2 linked regions of the Homo sapiens genome follow. The protein of the gene in region 1 purifies or fractionates together with the protein of each later gene. This does not show direct contact. Each region holds a gene or a part of one and is shown in the gene's direction. Other genes may lie near its edges.

Region 1 (12,701 bases):
GATGTGTCCCATCATGGCACTGTCGGTCTCAGGCTGTGTCCTCCCCACCAGCACTCCTGTGGCAGAATAGCTCACTGTCACGCTCATTTTCCATCAAGAGGCGGCAACACTTACAATGTAATGTGGTCAGAGTGATAGCAAGTCTCCCCTCAACACTGAAAACTCTTGTTTTATTGATCTCGTTTTATTGACTTGAAAACTGTCTTGTTTTATTGATTTTTTTTTATTGTCACAATTGGGGGTGGAGATGAGTGCTGCTGGCCTCTGGTAGGCAGAAGCCAGGGATGCTATTAAACTGGCACAACACAGCCCCTTCCAAAAGAGAATTATCAGGTCCAAACTGTCAATAGTGCTGAGGTTGAGAAATCACGATCTAGAAGTACAGGCTTTGCTTGTAGCCCTTGATCTGCAAGAATCCTACTTTACAGTAATTACAAGTAAGGATATACAGATTGTATTTGCTGGTGATTTTACCTATGTTCTTTGCCAGCCTGGCTAGGTTTACTTCTTTTATCAGTGGAAAGTGACAGGTGCATCAGTCCTCTCCACTGATGCCAAAGAAATACCAGGTGTATCCCTTAGAATGCATATAGCCAATCTCCTGGATTTGCCAACACCCACATATCTTTAATGGTCTTCCAGACATTGCTTTCTTAAGATGTTTACATTCTTTATCAGATTATCTTTTACTCCTGGCGCCAACCACTTTAGCATGTTTTCAGTTATTAGAGTCTTAGGATAGTATTTTCTTTGAGATTCAAACAAAAAAGTATTCTACATAGTACTTGTAATCTCTTTCACAATTGTAATTGCCTTTCACAAAGCCGACATTGTCTGATTTTTTGATTCTGCTGTTTATATCTTGGTAGTGTTACCTGTTGGTCCCCTAGTAAACAGTGACAGCAATCTTCTGAACCAGGCTGAGGCCCAGTCAAGTGTAGATAGACATGTATTTCTTATCTCACTGTGGTTTTATTTTTCTGCATGTCTGCCCTAATCAAAGCTTGTGCTGGGAGCTGCAGTGCATCTCATATCTCGGCCTCGGGAGGAATGGTTCATTGCATATTCTCTCAGAGACAGCTGGGCGCTTCGCAGGGAGTGGTCCCCCTCCCTGTCACCAGGGCAATTCTCTTTCACATCTCCCAGGACAGATGGAGAATGAAGAAATTAATAATTCATAGTGTGTATTTAAGTGGTGATTCTTCCTAGACTGAGACATACTTGCATTTTGTTCAAAAACATCTTGATGAAGACAGGCCCAGTGGTGACCTAAGAGTTAGAACATAGGAAGTAGGGAAACTCTTACTAAGAAAATGGACAATACAGGCCAGGCAGGGTGGCTCACGCCTGTAATCCCAGCACTTTGGGAGGCTGAGGCGGAAGGATCACCTGAGGTCGAGGGTTTGAGACCAGCCTGACCAACATGGAGAAACCCTGTCTCTACCAAAAATACAAAATTACCCAGGTGTGGTGGTGCATGCCTGTAATCCCAGCTACTCAGGAGGCTGAGGCAGGAGAATTGCTTGAACCTGGGAGGCGGAGGTTGCAGTGAGCCGAGATTGCACCATTGCACTCCAGCCTGGGCAACCAGAGCGAAAACTCCATCTCAAAAAAAAAAGAAGAAAGAAAATGGACAAGACAGACTGAAATTAGCTAGCAGCCATTAGCTCAGGTACCTTTTAAGTGCTCATTGTACTGATTGATGTTTGGATAGTGCATTAGCAGAAATATTATCTACTTGCACTTACGTTCATGTGATCTGTAGGACTCAGGGGTCCTGTTTGTGTCTGTAGTCATAGTTAAGTTTATAGTCAGTTCCTGGTTGGTGCTGGGGAAAAGAAATCAGGATGCATTCATTGTGAAATACCCTTACTGTCCTCTCAGGAGAGAAGAGGAAATGAGTGTGTTCTCTCTCTTGGTTAGAAACAGATAAAGCTGTGTCCCATTAGCAGTTGGATAGGAAACGGTAACTGGAACCTTCTGTCTAATCTGGTTTCCTTAAATGTAAGGAGCAGATAACTGCATCTGGGGAGTAGTGCTCTTAATAAGGATTATGGGGGCTTCAGTTGCAATGGCTCCAGTTGAAGAGCCATGGGATTTCATCTGTCCTGAATCATCTGAGTGTTATTCTTCTTCACATTAACTGTGTTTATCTGTTATAGTATATAATTATGCTGGTTTGTTATGTATTTGAAAAGCACTTAGCATGTTTTGAAATGTAGCGTTGAAATGACTTTAAAATGTCAACTCTGTAGTTTTAGTTTTAGGGCACAGTTCTTGCAAATTCCTGCTTTTCCTCTCTGACCCTAGTAACTCTGAAATCAGTAGTTGCAAACAAACAAACCCTAAAGCCTTGTGTGTCACTTTTCTTTGGGATAGTTGTTGAATTCAATAGCTCATTATTTCACGTAATATTATGTTCATAGTGCAATTTAACATGTAGTCTTTGAATGTTATAAATTCTAAAAGATTAAACAAGAACATTAGAAAAGGAATGAAAAGTGCTCTTAAAATCCTGCCCTAGGCCGGGCATGGTGGCTCACTCCTGTAATCCCAGCACTTTGGGAGGCCAAGGTGGGTGGATCACCTGAGGTTAGGAGTTTGAGACCAGCCTGGCCAACACGGTGAAACCCCATCTCTACTAAAAATACAAAAATTAGGTGGGTGTGGTGGCGCATGCCTGTAATCCCAGCTACTCGGGAGGCTGAGGCAGGAAAAATGCTTGAACCTGGGAGGCGGAGGTTGCAGTGAGCCAAGATCGCACCATTGCACTCCAGCCTGGGGACAACAGGGAGACTTCGTCTCCAAAAAAAAAAAAAACTCCTGCCTTTCTTGTAATCTGATGAAAGAACTCTGCCTACAGAGGCTTTTAACTATGCAAATTCTTTCCATATTTTTTTTCTTTTTCCTAATATAGTTTATTAGCTTTTACTCAGACTAGGTATAAATAAATAATTATCCCTTGCCTTAGAGGTGAAGTCATTTGAAAGCTCCATGGAATACATTTCTTCTTTAAAAACGCAACAAAAATTTTTTATTGTAAATTGACAATTTATAATTGTATAAATTTATGGGTTACAAAGTGATGTCATAAATTGTGGATACAATGTGGAATAATTAAATAAAGCTAGTTAACATATCCAATACTTCCAATACATTTCTGTGATGAGAACATCAATTTTGAAATGTGTAATACTCCATTATTAAGTATATGCACCACACTGTACAATAGAACTCAAAAAAAGTATAAAACATATTCTTCCTGTCTGAGATTTTGTACCCTTTGACCATCACTGAATTTTTTTTTCTTTTTCTTTTTTTTTTTTTATGAGACAGTCTCACTCTGTCACCCAGCCTGGAATGCAGTGGTGTGATCTCGGCTCACTGCAACCTCCGCCCCCCGGCTTCAAGCAACTCTGTTGCCTCAGCCTCCCCAGCAGCCAGGACCACAGGCACACAACACCACAACCTGCCAACCTTTTTTGTATTTTTAGTACAGATGGGGTTTTGTCACGTTGTTCAGGCTGGTCTTGAACTCTTGACCTCAGGTGATCCACCCACCTTAGCCTCCCAAAGTCCCAGGACCACAGACATGAGCCACTGTGCCTGGACTAAAATTTTTATGAGACAAAATATCAATTTCAAAACAGCATCAAAAAGTGAGTAGGCCAGGCACGGTGGCTCATGCCTGCAATCCCAGCACTTTGGGAGGCCGAGGTGTATTTTTCTGTACTAAAAATACAAAAGTATTTGTCTCTATTATAAATACAAAAAAAAAAAAAGAAATTAGCTGGGCACTGTGGCACATGCCTGCAATCCCAGCCACTCAGGAGGCTGAGGAAGGAGAACCATCTGAACCCTGGAGGCAGAGCCACAGTGAGCTGAGACTGCACTACTTGCACTCCAGCCTGGGCAACAAGAGTGCAACTTCGTCTCAAAAAAAAAAAAAAAAAAATGCTGGGCGCGGTGGCTCACGCTTGTAACCCCAGCACTTTGGGAGGCCGAGGCAGGCGGATCACAAAGTCAGGAGATCGAGACCATCCTCGCTAACACGGTGAAACCCTGTCTGTACTAAAAGTACAAAAATTAGCTGCGCGTGGTGGCGTGTAACTGTAGTCCCAGTTTCTCGGGAGGCTGAGGCAGGAGAATGGCGTGAACCTGAGAGGCGGAGGTTGTAGTGAGTGAAGATCGCACCACTACACTGCAGCCTGGGCGACAGAGCGAGACTCCGTCTTAAAAAAAAAAAAAAGAAATATACATGATAGGAATTCCAGGAATCTTATGGATTCTTCTTTTAAGGTCCCGGTCACTGGGCGTGGTGGCTTACGCCTGTAATCCCAAGACTTTTGGAGGCTGAGACGGGCGGATTTCACCTGAGGTCGGGAGTTTGAGACCAGCCTGACCAACGTGGAGAAACCCCGTCTCTACTAAAAAAAAATACAGAATTAGCCGGGCGTGGTGACAGGTACCTGTAATCCCAGCTATTGGGGAGGCTGAGGCAGGAGAATCGCTTGAACCCGAGAGGCGGAGGGTGCGGTGAGCCGAGATTGCGCCATCGCACTCCAGCCTGGGCGACAAGAGCCAAACTCCCTCTCAAGAAAAAAAAAAAAAAAGTCCCGGTCAACTGTGGGCACAATGTAACACTTACACACACTTAGGCTGAGTTACTCTCTGTACTAAGCAGTCATGTGCATAGGTTCCTGTGTGTGTACATGGTAATTGTTCAAATCTTGGATCCTTGGCGATCCTTAGAGCCACTCAATACTTCTGCCCCAATTTCTCAATTTCAGCCATTACACAATCAGTTATACAAGGGATACACTTGACATGCAGACAGCCCATCATTGACTGCACTAAGTCCAGTTTGGCTTTTATGGAAAAGTTGATAAAGTTGGTATCAACGAGGATGTGGTAAGGTGGGCCCAGCTGTGTATTATATTGGCAAAATAATCAGGAAAGGTGTTGCGGAACTTCTCTTTCCTTTAACGCGCTGGGATCCTTCTTTTCTTTCTCTTTAGGTTTTAATCTATCCTTTTCTTTAAGCCTCTGATCTCTGAGACTAAGCGTTTGCTTCATGGTTGTATAGTTCCTCATTTTCTTTTGCTTCCTCATGGTCACACCACACTCCTGTTTCTTCCGTAATCACCAACGGTGCAATGCTTTTACCTGGAATACATTTTTATGTTAGTCAAACTGTCTCGTTCCTTTCTAATAGATTCAATAAAGATAAGTGTTTTATTCGTGGATTTAAGGGCATAAATCTAAAGCTCCATGAACTGAATTGCTTATCATGTAACACTTTGATTTTCCTTTTCCATGACCAAATCGCTTTTCTATTCTATTTTCTAATACTAAGTTATTGTAAAACTATCACAGTTTCATATATTCCCAAAACCAGGAATGCGTCTTATCTGAACTTCCTTAAACTCATGATGAGTCAGAGGAGGCCAGTTTTCATTAGTAATCAGCGCCAAATTCATTTCAAAGAAAGATCTGTGTGGACATAGGATTGGTATGGAGAAAAATATGGTGATAAATTAACTGTGTCTCTTGTATAGTTGAGTAATAGAATTTCATTGTCGAACCCTGACCTGAAATACATGTTTTCTTTTATCAAAGTAGAAAATGAGTTGCTGCAAGTAAAGAAACTGTATTAGATATTGTATAACAGAGACTTTTTTTTTCTATTAAGTACTAACATTGCTTTTGTTTCTGTTCCAAACTTTGAAATCAGTGCACTTGGACAAAATGGAAACTGCTTTTCAAGGTCCTACAGAATATATGTTTATAAATGTATTTTTATACATGGTTGGTAATGAATCAGGTCTCTTTCGTGCCATTGCAGTTAGAGGGCCTCTGGTGCTGGAGTCCTCTGGAGGACTGGGCTGTCAGAGTGGGGCAGCGGGGTGCAGCGCGGGGAGGGCTTTTCTCTTTCTTCGTGCCTCTGGTGCTGGAGTCCTCTGGAGGACTGGGCTGTCAGAGTGGGGCAGCGGGGTGCAGTGCGGGGAGGGCTTTTCTCTTTCTTCATGGGGTCTCAGGGCCTCTCTCTTCCTCTCCACGTATGCTCTTCACAGGTCTCTCCAGCAGGGTAGTCAGATATCTTACATAGCGGCTTAGGGCTCCCAAAAGCAAACATTCCAAGAGGAAGCAGAAGCTGCCAGTCCTTTTAAAGATGAGGCTTGGGTGTGACATGGTATAACTTTTATTGCATTCTATTGGTTAATGCAGATTACAGGCCCAGTCAGTTTCAGATTAGAAGAGAACAAGGGAATGAGGCTGGGTTCCTTGGAGGCTATTTTTTTTTTTTTTTTTTTCTGAAACAGTCTCGCTCTCTTGCCAGGCTGGAGTGCAGTGGTGCGATCTCGGCTCGCTGCAACCCCTTGGAGGCTATTTTTAGAGATGAACTATCACAGTAATATACCTTAAAATACTTCATTTTAGACAGTTTTTGTGTGTTCTAGGGGTGGTCAGTTGCACTAACCAAGAATCTATGAGGTGTGGTTGGCCAGCAGTATATAGAAAGAGCTGTACCGCCGGGGCTGCCACTATAAGCACTTCAGCTATGCAAATTTTGATCAAAACTAGGCCAGACATGTGGATGTCTCTTGGTGGGGGAGGGATTTCCTGTCCCCAGGGACAATGAGGCTTCCCTAGGTTGGAACTGGGTGTGACGCAGTCCCTTTTGCTGGCTCTTCCCACCTCCCCACTGCTCCTTTCGTCCCCCTCTGTCTCCAAGTTGGTAAAGGAGTCAGGCATGGTGGGAAGGAGAGCACTTCCCTTAGCAAGTTATTGTTTAATGGGAGCTGGTGGGAAGAGTTCTGTCATTTAATCCTTGCCGGTGGTGCTATATGTAGTGAAATCAACTGCTACAGTGGTAGGGGCCTTAGAGATCATCAAGTCCTACCTCTAAACCATGAAGTTAATCTTCTCTCACCATCTTTGGCACATCCCTCAGCAAGCTAGAAACAGAACTCTGCGTTTTTTCCATAAAGTACGAGAAATAATGATTTCACCTTTAAAAACTGCCTTCCTGAGTAAGTGTCCGTTTGGTCAACCAGACTCCATGGGTCCTAACTTTCGTCAGGTTGTTCTTGCAGAACATGCCAGCAGAAGCATTCACCAACTGACATGTGCCCTGAAAGAAGGCGATGTCACTATTGGAGAAGATGCACCAAATCTTTCTTTTAGCACCAGTGTGGGAAATGAGGACGCCAGGACAGCCTGGCCCGAATTACAACAGAGCCATGCTGGTGAGTGTGAATGTCAATCCTAGTCTGAATGATGCATAGTGAATTTTTTAAACTCCGTAGAATAATAACTCCATTCATTCTTCATTCTGCTGCTATGATGTTATTCCTCAAACACAAATCAGATAATTTAATTCCCTCGCTTAATCTTGTTTTCCTTTGACTTCCCAATGCTTATAGGCTAAAGTCCAAAATTCTTAGTTATAAAATAACAGTGTTTTCCTAAGATAGCTCTAACCTGCCTCTTCGGCTCATCTTTGTGTACTTCTCATGCTAATCATCCATCTCACAACTCATATTCTAGTTATAATAACCTCCTCTCTATGCTTTTATGCTTTGACATGTGCAGTGACTTCTAACTGGAATTTTTCTTATCCTTTTCTGCTTGGTGAACTCCTTCCTGTTTATCCTTGCAGTGTTATCTCCTCTGTGAAAACAAGCACAATTAGCTTCTTCCTCTTCTTGTAGCACTGTGCATAGCTTTAGGTCTACATACAAACTTATTTTATATCTATTAGTGTCTCTCTCTTCCTTGCTAGATTCTTAGCTCTTAAGGGGTAGAAATTCTTTTTTTTTTTTTATGTTGGTCTTGTATCCCCAGTTGATAGCAGAATTCTTGATGCATAATATATCAGCAATTTTTATTAGTTGGAAGGATGGATGGGTGGTAAGAAACCATGGATCTCAAATAAGGTTAATAAACCCTCTGCTTTTGCTCTATAGTTAATCAGCTCAAAGATTTGTTGCGCCAACAAGCAGATAAGGAAAGTGAAGTATCTCCGTCAAGAAGAAGAAAAATGTCCCCCTTGGTAAGTATCAACTTTTCCAAGTTGACAAAGCATTCCTGTGTTTTACTGTATTGTGTTATTTTGTAGTACATGTTGCAGAAAAAATTTAAGCATGGCATACTAATAGTGAAAAACATTAAAAGTAATTCTCTTCCCTCTGATTATTTTGGCTGAAAAAATAGATTTCCATGGCAGAGGGAATCTTGATTTTTTAAATTTATTATTCACTTGGAAAATGGGAGCAAGGGAATAGTTTGGAGAATTTATTTTGCAACTGTTAGCAAAATATGTAATATAAATATATAATATATAATAAATTAATATAATAAATTATATGTCAGAATATATGTAAAAGATAAAGTCATTATTTTAGTAATTTCTTTTTTAGAGGGTCATATCTATTATTGATCATTTTTAGAAGTTACTTAATTATAATTGTAGCCCTACTTTGTAATATTTTTTAAATTTTGAGTGTCAAAATAATACATTTTATTTTTAATTAATTAATTAATTTTTTTGAGACAGAGTCTCATTCTGTTGCTCAGGCTAGAGTGCAGTGGCATGATCTCGCCTCACTACAACCTCTGCCTCCCTGGTTCAAGCGATTCTCCTGCCTCAGCCTCCCTAGTATTTGGGTTTACAGATGTGCACTACCACACCAGGCTAATTTTTTGTATTTTTAGTAGAGATGGGGTTTCACCATATTGGCTAGGCTGGTCTCGAACTCTGAACCTCAGGAAATCCATCAGCCTCGGCCTCCCAAAGCACCGGGATTATAGGTGTGAGCCACCGCGCCTGGCCTCAAAATAATACGTTTTAATATGTAATGTTCTATATGTTAAAATATATGGTTATAAAATAGTATGATATATAAGAAGTGGTGCTGTATTTCTTCTGAAGTTGTTTGTTATTGCTTTGACAGAGTGTATTATTTCTGATTAAAGCATTTTATATGCTAAAGGCTGAGATAGATGTGAGTGAAAGCACTCTGGACCAGATTTAAGTGGACAAAATAATAGTCAAGGGCTTAGTTCTATCTAGGGTCTATCACATACTCTCTAAGATATTGTGCCTGTCTCACAGAGTTTTTGGAATAATGAGATAAGATTACATACTTAAAATTCTTTAGAAACCTATGAAGTGTTACATAAACATAACATGCATAGCAGCAAGTAACCACCTCACATTTTCAATGTGTTTTCTAGTTCAATACAATGCCTGTATGCTGAAAAGTGTGGAGACATGTCACTTTCTTTTCTTCACCACTGAAATATCAGAGTATCACTCCCATACGAACACTCCATTCCAGGCTGACACATACTTTTAAGCTTAATTCCTACTTTAGAGAAATGTACTTCATATGCATATTCTAAATTTATAGATACAGATTTTATAATTTTAGTAAAACATCTCATCATTTAATGAATTTATTACTATTGACATCTGGTTTCTAGCTTGCTCTTAAGCACAGACTGGTGGAATGCTTTTAAATCTACTAGATGAAGTTGCTTTATCTGTTGAATGCTCAGACATGCTTATTTGCCTTTTAAAGTCTGAGCAGTGATATTATGGAGCTTACTGAATCCAGACAGGCAGGAAGACCTTCACTAAGAGAATCAGTTTAGTACATACAGAGTGCACTTTAAAATACACAAGTCTATTTATATGGAGCTATGTAAAAGAATGGAACTTAGACTCTATATGTATACAGCCTACATGTAATAATTATAAACCATAATAGTAATAATTAGCTTTTTAAGATTATACCTTTAGAATGCACTTTCATAGCCAGTATAACATATTAGAAATACATGCATATATTGAGAGTAAAACTGAGGCACTGTTGAGATGGAAAAAAAGTTATTACTTATTGTCTTAAAATGTAGATATCTAAACTAAAGCCCTTCAAAGTAGACACAAATGATTTCATGTGAACATTTTTCATACAATATTGGCTTGAGCTTTTTATTTTTCACATTGACTTCCTCCTGTATACTCATAGTAGTAATTTATATTTGCCTATCTTCTGAACCTATTGCTATTAATGGAGGATGATTATAATTGTTTGATTTCTACTCAGGACAGATAATTCATTTAATTAGAGTTACTTTGGTTTTTAAATTTCTTAAATATACCAAAAAACCAAAGCTCTATTTTATTTTATTCTGCCATGATAGCTGGTACTTGATTATCATTTAAAATGTCTGCTGTGCTGAGAAAGAGAGTGGCTGAGAAACAGACACTGTGCCTCATTTCAAGCTTTCCTCTGGCTTTGTTTAACTGGTTGACCCTTGTTTTACCTTTTCCTGATTTCCTCATCCTTTAAAAAAAAAATTATGTGATGGGTATATGATTTTACAAACTATTTTAGGATAAGGTAAGCTATACATTAACAGTCAGTTCCAGGAATGCTACAGAGCTAAAATAGCATTAGCGTTTTTTTGAAATCTCTTCGTTGGACCCCTCAATGCAGTGTGTCTCTACTTTAGGGTTCTACTCTTGGAGGTTCTATGCTCCAGAACACCATACACTTGAATTGCCTTCAATACTAGAGCCAAAAATCAAAAACTACATTTTGCTAATGTATCTTTTTTGAGATGGAATTTCATCGCATTGACACTGGCTTGGCATCAAACGCTTCCTAAAGAATCTCTCCTTCACGGAGCTGCTGCAGTTTTAGCTAGCAAATCCTCTTCCATGGCAGTTTCTTGGAGAGAGTTGTCCCTTGTATCTCAGCATTACTGAATGGAATGTTGTTTTTCCAATTTGTTAAAATAGTTTATTCCAAGCCAGTTATACTACTGCTACCCCAGCATTTTTCCATTCACTATATGTGCTTTTTATAACCACTTTCACCATCCATCTTTAAAAAAAATGATATTCACATCCATGAATCTTGTGTATTTGTGGAATTTATAGGATAGAGAAGCAAGTATTTGTATTAGTCCATTCTCGTGTTGCTAAAAATAAATACCTGAGGCTGGGTAATTTATTTAAAAAAGAGGTTTAATCAGCTCATGGTTCTGCAGGCTGTATAGGAAGTGTGATACTGGCATCTCACTCTGGTGAGGGCCTCAGGAAACTTTCAGTCATGGTGGAAGGTGAAAGGGGAGCAGGCATTTCATGTGGTGAGAGCCAGAGCAAGAAGTGGGAGAGGTGTCACATTCTTTTAAACAACCAAATCTCACCAAAACTCAGAGCAAGAACTCATTATCATGAGGATAGCACCAAGATTCATTCATCATGACCGAAACACCTCCCACCAGGCCCCACCTCCAATGCTGGGGGCCACATTTCAACTTGAGGTTTGTGGGGGACAAGCATCCAAACTATATCAAGACTATAAGCTACATTGTGATCGATTCTATGTTTATATCACATCAGTGCAAAATTGAGTATGGAGAAGGTAACAACTGATTCTTTGCTAAATCCAAACATGCTTAATTTGGCTTTTTAAAATTTATGTATTTATGTATTTATTTATTTATTTTTTGTCATAGAGGTCATTAGAACATGAGGAAACCAATATGCCTACTATGCACGACCTTGTTCATACTATTAATGACCAGTCTCAATATATTCATCATTTAGAGGCAGAAGTTAAGTTCTGCAAGGTAAGTTTCTCATTAAGAATTTAAAACTAAATAAATGAAAGCTTATATTAACTATAGATTGTATTAAAATTTGCTGCTATAAATCTTCATGTTTGTAGCAATACATTGACAATTGCTATTCTTACGTGATTGAGAGACTGATGTGTCACAAGAGCTTGTCAGACTTGGGAATGATGCTCTTGACCATACCATTTCTGATTGCTTGATTTCCCAGTAGTTCATTACTATGTCTAATGATTTCATAATATGCTTTCATATTTCAGAAGTTTTCCTTCTCACCCCGCTTGCTGTAGCCCAGCAAATGGCAAATGCTTTGGAATACAAATACCAATCATTCTCCCATACTTGTCAACCTACTGGAGCAGTGGTACAGCAATCAGGGATTCTAAACTGGTAGACCAATTCTTCTCCGCTGTCAGTATTAAGGCTCTTACTTTGACTTTGAATGAGAATGGTTCATAGGGTACTGACAGTAATGATCAAGAAACCAAACACATCATATATAGCTTATGACACTAGAAGGTTATATGCTCAACTGCGTGCAGTTTGCTAATGTCATTAATGCTAATAGAGCCTTTTCATCTTCCCGAAGTATGTCGTGTTTTACTTTTTTTTTTCTGTTTCTTTCTCTCTTTCTTTCTTTCCCTCCCTCTTTCTTTCTTTCTAGTATCAGTGTATTCGATTGTATGATATTTTTATAGGAATCACTGATATCTCTTGTATCATGTTTTTATATATAGTATATGATATTATGTATTATATTGTTGACATTTTAAGATGCAAGGCCAGTATGTAACTTAAGGAGGCTTTAGATGTTTCACTGTCCTGATTTTACCGGGGAGTTTCTGATCTTAACATGTAATTTCCTGTTTGTTCTTGGAGGACACAGTTATTAATATACACGTGGTCCTGGATTACCAGTAAAGCTGAAATAATATCCTAGGAACTATTTCATTAACAATACTCTATTAATCCCTAAGATGTTGTGGATAAAACTTGAAAGATATAAAGCAGAATAAATTTACTATCTAGTTGAGAAGACAGAACTATTC
Region 2 (8,612 bases), on another chromosome or scaffold:
GAGGCACTTAGGAGACAGGAGCAGAATATAAAGAGTTTTGAGGAGACCTATGACCGAAAGCTCAAGAATGAACTTCTAAAGTAATTGTTTAGCATTTTTAAATAACTAATATGTTTAAATTAAATTGGTAGAAACATAACAAAAACTGACAAAGTAGTCTGTAACTTAGGCAAACTTTAGTGTTTGAAAAAAAAAAAACATAGTTTTATCGATACAGTCAATCCTTTCCTGCATTTGAGTTAGGATAGTTTTTAAAAGATAAGGGCCGGGTGTGGTGGCTCATGCCTATAATCCCAGCACTCTGGGAGGCTGAGGTGGGCGGATCACCTGAGGTCAGGAGTGCAAGACCAGCCTAGCCAACATGGTGAAACCCCATCTCTACTAAAAATACAAAAATTAGCTGGGTGTGGTGGTGGGCACTTGTAATCCCAGCTACTGGGGAGGCTGAGGCAGGAGAATCACTTGAACCCGGGAGGCAGACGTTGCAGTGAACTGAAGTTGTGCTACTGCACTCTACTAGCCTGCGTGACAGTGACAATCCATCTCAAAAATTAACAACAATAAAAAAATACAGAGAAGCACATCCTCTGCGCTTCTTATGGCTTCTCTAACGTTTATTGTGGGCTGTGATTTGCTTTAATTTTCAGGACACCTTGTGACTTGCTTAGCTTGCATAGTTGATAAGCTGTAAAATTGGAATTATAACCACTTTTAGTTATCTTTTCCTCTACCTCACTCATACAGTCAGAAGGATGGGGTTATCTGACAATATATAAATTATACTAGTGGTCATAGTATTTGTCAGTGAACATGTGCCTTGTATTCCTTCAAGATTCAGCAAAGCCAGAATCAAAAGAGCTAAAATTAACTATGTGAGGCAAAAAGTGATATAGGGAAAGGAAAATATGGACAACTATGGTAACTTTGGCTTTTCTGTAGTCTGAGTTTTGTGTATCAGTGAATAATATCTCAGTGCTACGACATTATGCCCATGTGGTAACATTTCTCTTCAGTGTGTGGGAAAGCATCTGGCACATAAAAAGTGCTCAGTTAATATTTGTTGTAAATGTGTCACGAGGAAATGATTCAACTCAGGTGCTCTGGGCATTTCTTATTTGGCCTCTTTTATTGCCTTTCTCATAATTTGTCATCGATATTCCATTACATAATATTGCAAAGGTTTCTTGAGGTAATCCTTTAAACAAATCCTATTTTTAAAAAATATGGCAGCTTTTTTATCTATTGATTTTGAAATGATGTATTTTACCCACATCTTCTATGTCAGTTTCTATACTAAAATAGCTAAAATGGAAGTGTCTGTAGTTGCTGAATTTTTAGGAATAAATGAATTAAAGTATGTGTGTTAATTTTACATAGTTATGGAGCTAGTGAACTATTTGGTGTCATTGTGACAGCTTCCACAGGCTGCATGGTGTCTGCCTGGCTTTGGGAATCCTCATATGACTTTGGCAGGTGTTGGAGTTTGGAGGCTCTTCGCCACAGGAGTGCTTCTATTTCCTTTTGGAACCAAAAGGGCAGCTGGTAACAGCTGGGAAAGGGAAGTGAAACTGTGAAAATGTGCCTTTTGGTATTGCTAATCCGGATATAATGCTCTTGGCAGTTGGCTCTCAGGACTGTGCTTAGTCCCTGAGCACAAAAGTTCTTACCTTGGTTGGGGGTGGGCAGATGGTACAGGTGGATTGGAAGTGACCGTCTGATTATCATTTGGGATTGAGTCTGTTGTGTGCTGTGTAAATTTAATTTACCCCTTTGCTCTTTGTGTCAGTTGAGACCAACTGAAAAGTGATTGCTTTCAGTAAGTAACCTTATGATAACACGACGCTTCATTTTGTGTGATTGAGTTTTGGGACCCAGTTTATAGGATCAAGGAAGGGTTTTACTGGGCATTTTATGTTCAGGGGTTATATCCCTGGCTTTAGTATTGAGGACTTTGAAGTTTACAAGTTGTCATGTTTAGCACCCTCAGGTGCTCCTGTGCCATAGATAAGCTCCTGCACTGATAACAGTCTTTCCAGAAAAATGCCTGAGGAGCTCATATTTAGTCATTCTGATTCTCAGGTATCAACTTGAACTGAAGGATGACTACATCATTAGAACTAATCGACTGATTGAAGATGAAAGGAAGAATAAAGGTGATGTTTGGGGGGAAAATAAGCTGTATTTTTCAGTTCTGCTGTAGGTTATTAGCTTCCCAAGTTGGGTCTTTTCTATATTCTAAAAAATACAGCTTACACTTCATTGTTCATACAAAATTACACATTTTTTGTAATTTTAATTTTATAAATTAAAAATCATGGTCTTCACTGCCTTTTGAGGAACCTTCATGTTTAATAGTTTGTATATTCACAAAGGCCAGTGATTTATCATGGATATTTTATCCAACTTTATTTCATATATTTTGATAAATCTGCAATTGTCAGGAACGTAGCAGCAACTTATTGCTGTCAAGTACGTATTACTCCTAACCATGAGAGACTTTATTTTTCACTTACGGAAAACTTTTAACTTCTCTGTCCTCTGTGACCTAGTTTCTTATTTCTTTTGCTTCTAATATATTTTTATGCTTTATAATATTTTTACTTGATGTATAACCTTCTGAACTCTTGTGTACATTGGCCTGAGACTATGGAAGTTGAATAATTTTTCAATCTTCAGATGTTTTACATTTCAGTGTATTTTTTTTTTTTTTTGAGACGGAGTCTCGCTCTGTCACCTAGGCTGGAGTGCAGTGGTGCGATCTCGGCTCACTACAAGCTCCACCTCCCAGGTTCACGCCATTCTTCCACCTCAGCCTCCCCAGTAGCTGGGACTACAGGCACCCACCAACACGCCCGGCTAATTTTTTGTATTTTTAGTAGAGGCGGGGTCTCAGCGTGTTAGCCAGGATGATCTCGATCTCCTGACCTCGTGATCCGCCCGCCTCGGCCTCCCAAAGTGCTGGGATTACAGGCGTGAGCCACCACGCCCGACCCATTTCAATGTATTTCTAGGAAATTGCTGTAACAAGAAGTTGAAGTTTTGGTGGAAATTTCAAGTAGATTCCTGGGAGGAAACCAGGGTTAGATAGTTGATGTTGACCAGATACCCAATGTGTGGCTACTGTCTTTTTTTTTTTTTTTTTTTAAGAGACGGAGTCTTGCTCTGTTGCCCAGGCTGGAGTACAGTGGCACAATCTCAGCTCACTGCAACCTCTGCCTCCTGGGTTCAAGTGATTCTTGTGCCTCAGCCTCCCAAGTAGCTGGGACTACAGGTGTGCGCCACCATGCCTGGCTAATTTTTGTAGAGAGAGAGTTTCACCATGTTGGCCAGGCTGGTCTCGAACTCGTGACCTCAGGTGGTCCGCCTGACTTGGCCTCCCAAAGTGCTGGGATTACAGGCGTGAGCCACTGTGCCCAGCCCCTTTTACTATCTTGTGGAGACTAATACTTCTTTTATGCATTAATACCATTACGTATGTAACAAATTATGGTTTGATGATATATCTACATAGACTTGTGTTAGATGAAGTGAAAACTACAAAATAGTAACTACAATATAGTAACAGACAGATCTTTGTCTTCAAGGAAGTTAAGAGCTGTGGGTATTAGGGCCCTGTGCTTTGAGCACATGGTATAACTCTGGTTAGCATGTATAGCAAGTGGAATTTCACCACATATATGACAGTTACAGCTTCACATCACCTGTTGGGTAACAGGGTTTATTTCTTACTTGCCCGCTACATCTGCTATTTGGATTGTGAAATAGTGGTCATTAGGTCTGACATACTGGCCATAAATATTAAATGGCTTTTGTATTCACTAGGAAAACATTATGGTGTTTAATTGGTGGGCTCTTTTTTCAGAAAAAGCTGTTCATTTGCAAGAGGAGCTCATAGCTATTAATTCAAAAAAGGAGGAACTCAATCAATCTGTAAATCGTGTGAAAGAACTTGAGGTAATTGTTAAGCATGTTGGTTTTTGAAATAGATTTTAAGCAATATATGAAATTTTAGTCATACATAATTTATCCTAAGTCATCCTGTTGAGATGTTTGGACTGCCATTTATATGGCTAAGAAGGTGTTAGCTGAAGTTAATTCAATAGTTCTTAATTTCAGTCAGTGTCACATAGGAAAGTGTAGATAGAGCTTTGGGTCCTGGAGTCCTGCCCACATCCTGTCTGTGTCTCTAACTGCTTGTGTGTCGCTAGGTAAGTTCTGTGACTGCAGGTTCCTGAGCTGTAAACTAGGATGTTTTCCACATTATAGGGTTGTTGAGGGAATTCAGTAAGCTAACTTATGTGCCTAGTTCATAGCAGGTGGCCATTACTATTAGTTTCTACATCAGCCTGTTATCTCCTTCCATCAGCAGCAGGTAAACAAAATTCCTGTCATTACATTGTTATCTTACAGATTAAAACAAAATGAGGTACATTTTTCACATATCATTGCTTCTTTACTTTTCTGTTCATTCGTGTGCTTGCTGTCTGAAGGATGAAGCTGGAACTTTAGGTACTTACAACATATTTTGTATATGAAATTTATTTTAGCAACTGTGACTTATGTGAGAACTTTGTAGGCTTTTTACTCAAATATGAGATATACTAAGAAAAGGGAAGCACTTCACAACATTTTACAGAATCTTTTTTCCTTTCTTTCCCTTTTTTTTTTTTTTTTTTTTTTGAGACAGAGTCTTGTTCTTTCGCCCAGGCTGGAGTGCAGTGGTGTGATCTTGGCTCACTGCAACCAACCTCCACCTCCCGGGTTCAAGTGATTCTCATGTCTCAGCTCCCAAGTAGCTGGGATTTCAGCCATGTGCCACCACACCCAGCTAATTGTTGTATTTTTAGTAGAGATGGGGTTTCACCATGTTGCCCAGGGTGGTCTCGAACTCCTGAGCTCAAGCAATCCTCTTGCCTCAGCCTCCCAAAGTGCTGCGATTACGGGCGTGAGCCACCATGCTCAGCCATTTTTATCTTACCTTTCATATTTAAAAAATATATATTGCTATGATGTGTGATTATTGTTGGGTTCTTGGTTGCCTCTGGAAAATGGGATGATAATCTTAGAAGGACTTGCTTCATGGGATGCGGCCTATAAAAGTTCTGCCCCAACTGTAGGGCGGAAGATAATTTTCGTTATTGTAGTTAGAGTCTTATTGTAGAGAATCAGACTTCTGTCTAGTGACCTTAATTAAATTGTGACACCATGCTTAAAGGAGCCTGCCAGCTTTTACTTTTGCAGTACTGTAAAGTCATTATTCAAATGTAAATTTTCCTTTTTGAATTTTAGCTTGAATTAGAGTCTGTCAAAGCCCAGTCTTTGGCAATAACAAAACAAAACCATATGCTGAATGAAAAGGTTAAAGAGATGAGTGATTATTCACTACTAAAAGAAGAGAAACTGGAGCTTCTGGCACAAAATAAATTACTTAAACAACAACTGGAAGAGAGTAGAAATGAAAACCTGCGTCTCCTAAACCGTATGTATTTTTCTTTTCTTCTGACTTGCGTGTTTTAGTAATTCGCATTAGGTCAGTATTATAAAACTATGCTTTGTACTTGTATAAGGTAGGGGGCTTACATTGGGAAGATTTATAAAATTAAGATTCTTGGATTAAACTCTGCAAACCTGCCTATAGGTGGTATCAAAGCTTCCCTTGCCCTCTGACTGCTGATTGGGTTTGGCCAGTGGGGACACCAGCCTCTACATACAGTGGCCCTAGGCTGGCCACTGTGCCTCATGGCCAAGTGAGGCCATAGTGCCTGCGATTACCTCTTCCAAGTGCTCTGCACCACCACCCTGTCTCTAGTGCTGAGAATTTCTCCCTCCTCTGATTCCCCAGGCCCAAGGAGCGCTAACAGTATGGCCCTGTTACTAGCCCACCCAGGGAACTCCACCATCCTTTGTGCATACCCTGAATAAGTCAACCTTTATTAAAGGGTTCTTAGATGACCTTGACCGTGAGAGCCATCTGCCTTCTGCCTGGATCCCAACTGCTGCTGTCAGATGCCCAGATCATATTGGATCCCAGGGCTGTCATCAACAGGTAGACCAGATAGAGAGCTCCTTCTGTGCACAGTAGAGGAGAGAAACAGGCTTTCAGGTTAATTTGAGAATTTGAAAGAGTTCTTTTACTTGGAGTAGGACTCCAAGGGTAATAAAGTTTGCATTAACATGCACTAAATTCTTTTGTTGTGAAATTTGAGAGTCAGGATTGCTCTGAGCTCATTTAATAGAATTATTATCATATTTATTGAGTCAGTACAAAGCAAAGAACACTTTAAAACCCCTTTAACTGTTTTTGTTAAGTTAAATAAGAAAACTTAAGGTTGGTAATGACTAGGATTTTTTTTTTTTTTTTACCTTCTTAGGCCTAGCTCAGCCGGCTCCTGAACTTGCAGTCTTTCAGAAAGAACTACGGAAAGCCGAAAAGGCTATAGTGGTTGAGCATGAGGAGTTCGAAAGCTGCAGGCAAGCTCTGCACAAACAACTGCAAGACGAAGTGAGTATTGCTCTTCTTCAGTTCTAGTGTGATACCAGTACACTTCATAGTTACGTAAACTTGGCACAAGTCACACTAGTGTAAATCAGATTTATTTTAACATCAAACATTACTCCCCCAAATATGCTAAAGGTATCCTTTCTCATCTGAGAAAATTCTGCAGTGATAACGTGACTTTATATTCGTAATAGTAATAAAATGGAGAAGAAAGCAAACTCACCTAAACATAAAATTTTCTGAGTGCCTGATGGTGCCCACTGTTATCTCTCGATTCTCACCCTGATAAGTATTACAAACATTCACTGTCTTCTGATTTCTGCCTGCATGCCCTAGAGTTCTTTGATATGACTGAAAAAGATGGTGAAGAACTTGTTTGTGTGTTCTGCTTGTGTTTTTTTTTAATAGGGACCCTGTTGTTTACTGTCATAAAGCTTCTTGGAATTGGCAGAACAAAAAGAGTACAAACATGATAAGAGAACTTTTCCTTTTGAAGCAAGCTGTGATTTGTTTTACATTGATTTCTTTTCCTATTCTGAATCTTTTCAGATTGAGCATTCTGCACAGCTGAAGGCCCAGATTCTAGGTTACAAAGCTTCTGTAAAGAGTTTAACTACTCAGGTTGCCGATTTAAAATTGCAACTGAAGCAAACTCAGACAGGTTAGAGACGTTTTAACCCATAAATATTTTTGTATGTATAAAGCTTCTGGTGTCTGTGAAAATGTAATGATCATAATTTATTGAATATTAATTATTGTTTTAGGGGAAAAGCCATAGAAATATGTGTCATCTTAGAAGTAAAACTCCCTATCCATTTTGGTAATACCATCTGGATCATCAGCAAAAGTATTTTGCTTCATAGGTGCCTCATGGCTTGGGAGAGTCTCATGCCCCAATAGGAAAGGCGTGGTGGTAACATAGAAGTCCCCATATTCATTATAGGATTTCCTTTTTTATTTGTTACCCCAATGTTAACACCAATTCAGTAGTTTTACGGATTCCTTGATAGATATATAAATATACAGGACAAGCAGGGTGGTTTAGCAAAAAGAATATTGCCTTCAGAATCAGAACTGTTCTTCTTTTGGACCCGTTTTGAAGTTGTTTGACCTTGGGCATGTTACTTTAACTTCCTTGGGCCTCAGTCTCCTCATTTGTAATGGGGATAATAATACCTACTGAGCCATGATGAAAAAGATGAAATGGGTTTCAGTCCAGTGCCTGGGACATAAAAGACACTCAGGAAATGGTTATTGGTATCATTTTATTATTGTGTCTTCACTGTGGATGCATCTCTGCCCCTTCCTACTTCGTAAGAAGGATATTAAAGTTCAGATACTTTATTCTTCAGTTGCTTTCAAGTTCAAAGAAAGTACGTATGTGTTACCAGTTCAACTGGGTCTGAGCCTTCCTTGTTCCCACCTGCATTGTTTCCTCATCAGCTCCTTGCTCTCTTCTACCAGCACTTGTTTTATTTTTATCTCTACTCGTTTCTGCTTTTTTCTGTTCCTCATTTTCTTTCAGTTCTGTTTGTGAAACTTCTCACAGCTGAAATCATAGCAGTCTCCTATCAATAAAAAATAGTTGAATGAGGATAGAACTCTTTCGCATGCATGTGTTGCCGAGGGCAAGCTTCTTTCTTGTAGCATCACGGGGAGGCATTGCAGGAGAGAGGGGCAGGTGCACTGGCTTTGCATTAGGAAAGCCCAGTAGCTCTTAGACTTGCTAACCGTGTGACCCAGCCTCAGTAAGCTTTAGTCCCCCCATCTGTAAAATGGGAGCAGTGAGAGTTTCTTGACCACAGTGTTGTTGTGAATGCAGGTCCTCACTTCCTTATATGAAACTCGGGCCATATGCTGTGGATTTCGCAATAGCCCTGGGAGTTCTGAACAGCATCCTATAGTAAAGCACATTAATTATTTTGCAGTCAACTGTATGAATATTCATGCTGGGATAAATAAAGATTATAAATGGGTTTACATCAGTTCAGGTCAAACTTTTCAACCAAATGAGTTCAAGTCTGGTTGGGCTTTGCCACCAAATAAATTATGAATAAATTTTCAGTTCTCAGAGCCTTGTGGCTTTCAAAATTGTGCATAATGGATTCTGAAA

The links.
Region 2: the proteins of SDCCAG8 (region 1) and OFD1 purify together in Homo sapiens (affinity purification with mass spectrometry; 2 studies listed by BioGRID and IntAct, with this or other methods). This does not show direct contact.

Annotation. Positions count from the first base shown.
Region 1 is NC_000001.11:243,263,008-243,275,708, forward strand, and holds part of SDCCAG8 (serologically defined colon cancer antigen 8), read left to right. Parts: intron 1-4,613; exon of another isoform or gene 4,614-5,166; intron 5,167-7,084; exon of another isoform or gene 7,085-7,097; coding exon 7,098-7,250; intron 7,251-7,970; coding exon 7,971-8,056; intron 8,057-11,535; coding exon 11,536-11,649; intron 11,650-12,701. UniProt on the Homo sapiens protein: Plays a role in the establishment of cell polarity and epithelial lumen formation. Also plays an essential role in ciliogenesis and subsequent Hedgehog signaling pathway that requires the presence of intact primary cilia for pathway activation.
Region 2 is NC_000023.11:13,751,289-13,759,900, forward strand, and holds part of OFD1 (centriole and centriolar satellite protein OFD1), read left to right. Parts: coding exon 1-80; intron 81-1,415; exon of another isoform or gene 1,416-1,429; coding exon of another isoform or gene 1,430-1,542; intron 1,543-2,079; coding exon 2,080-2,153; intron 2,154-3,862; coding exon 3,863-3,954; intron 3,955-5,289; coding exon 5,290-5,479; intron 5,480-6,371; coding exon 6,372-6,502; intron 6,503-7,048; coding exon 7,049-7,160; intron 7,161-8,612. UniProt on the Homo sapiens protein: Component of the centrioles controlling mother and daughter centrioles length. Recruits to the centriole IFT88 and centriole distal appendage-specific proteins including CEP164. Involved in the biogenesis of the cilium, a centriole-associated function.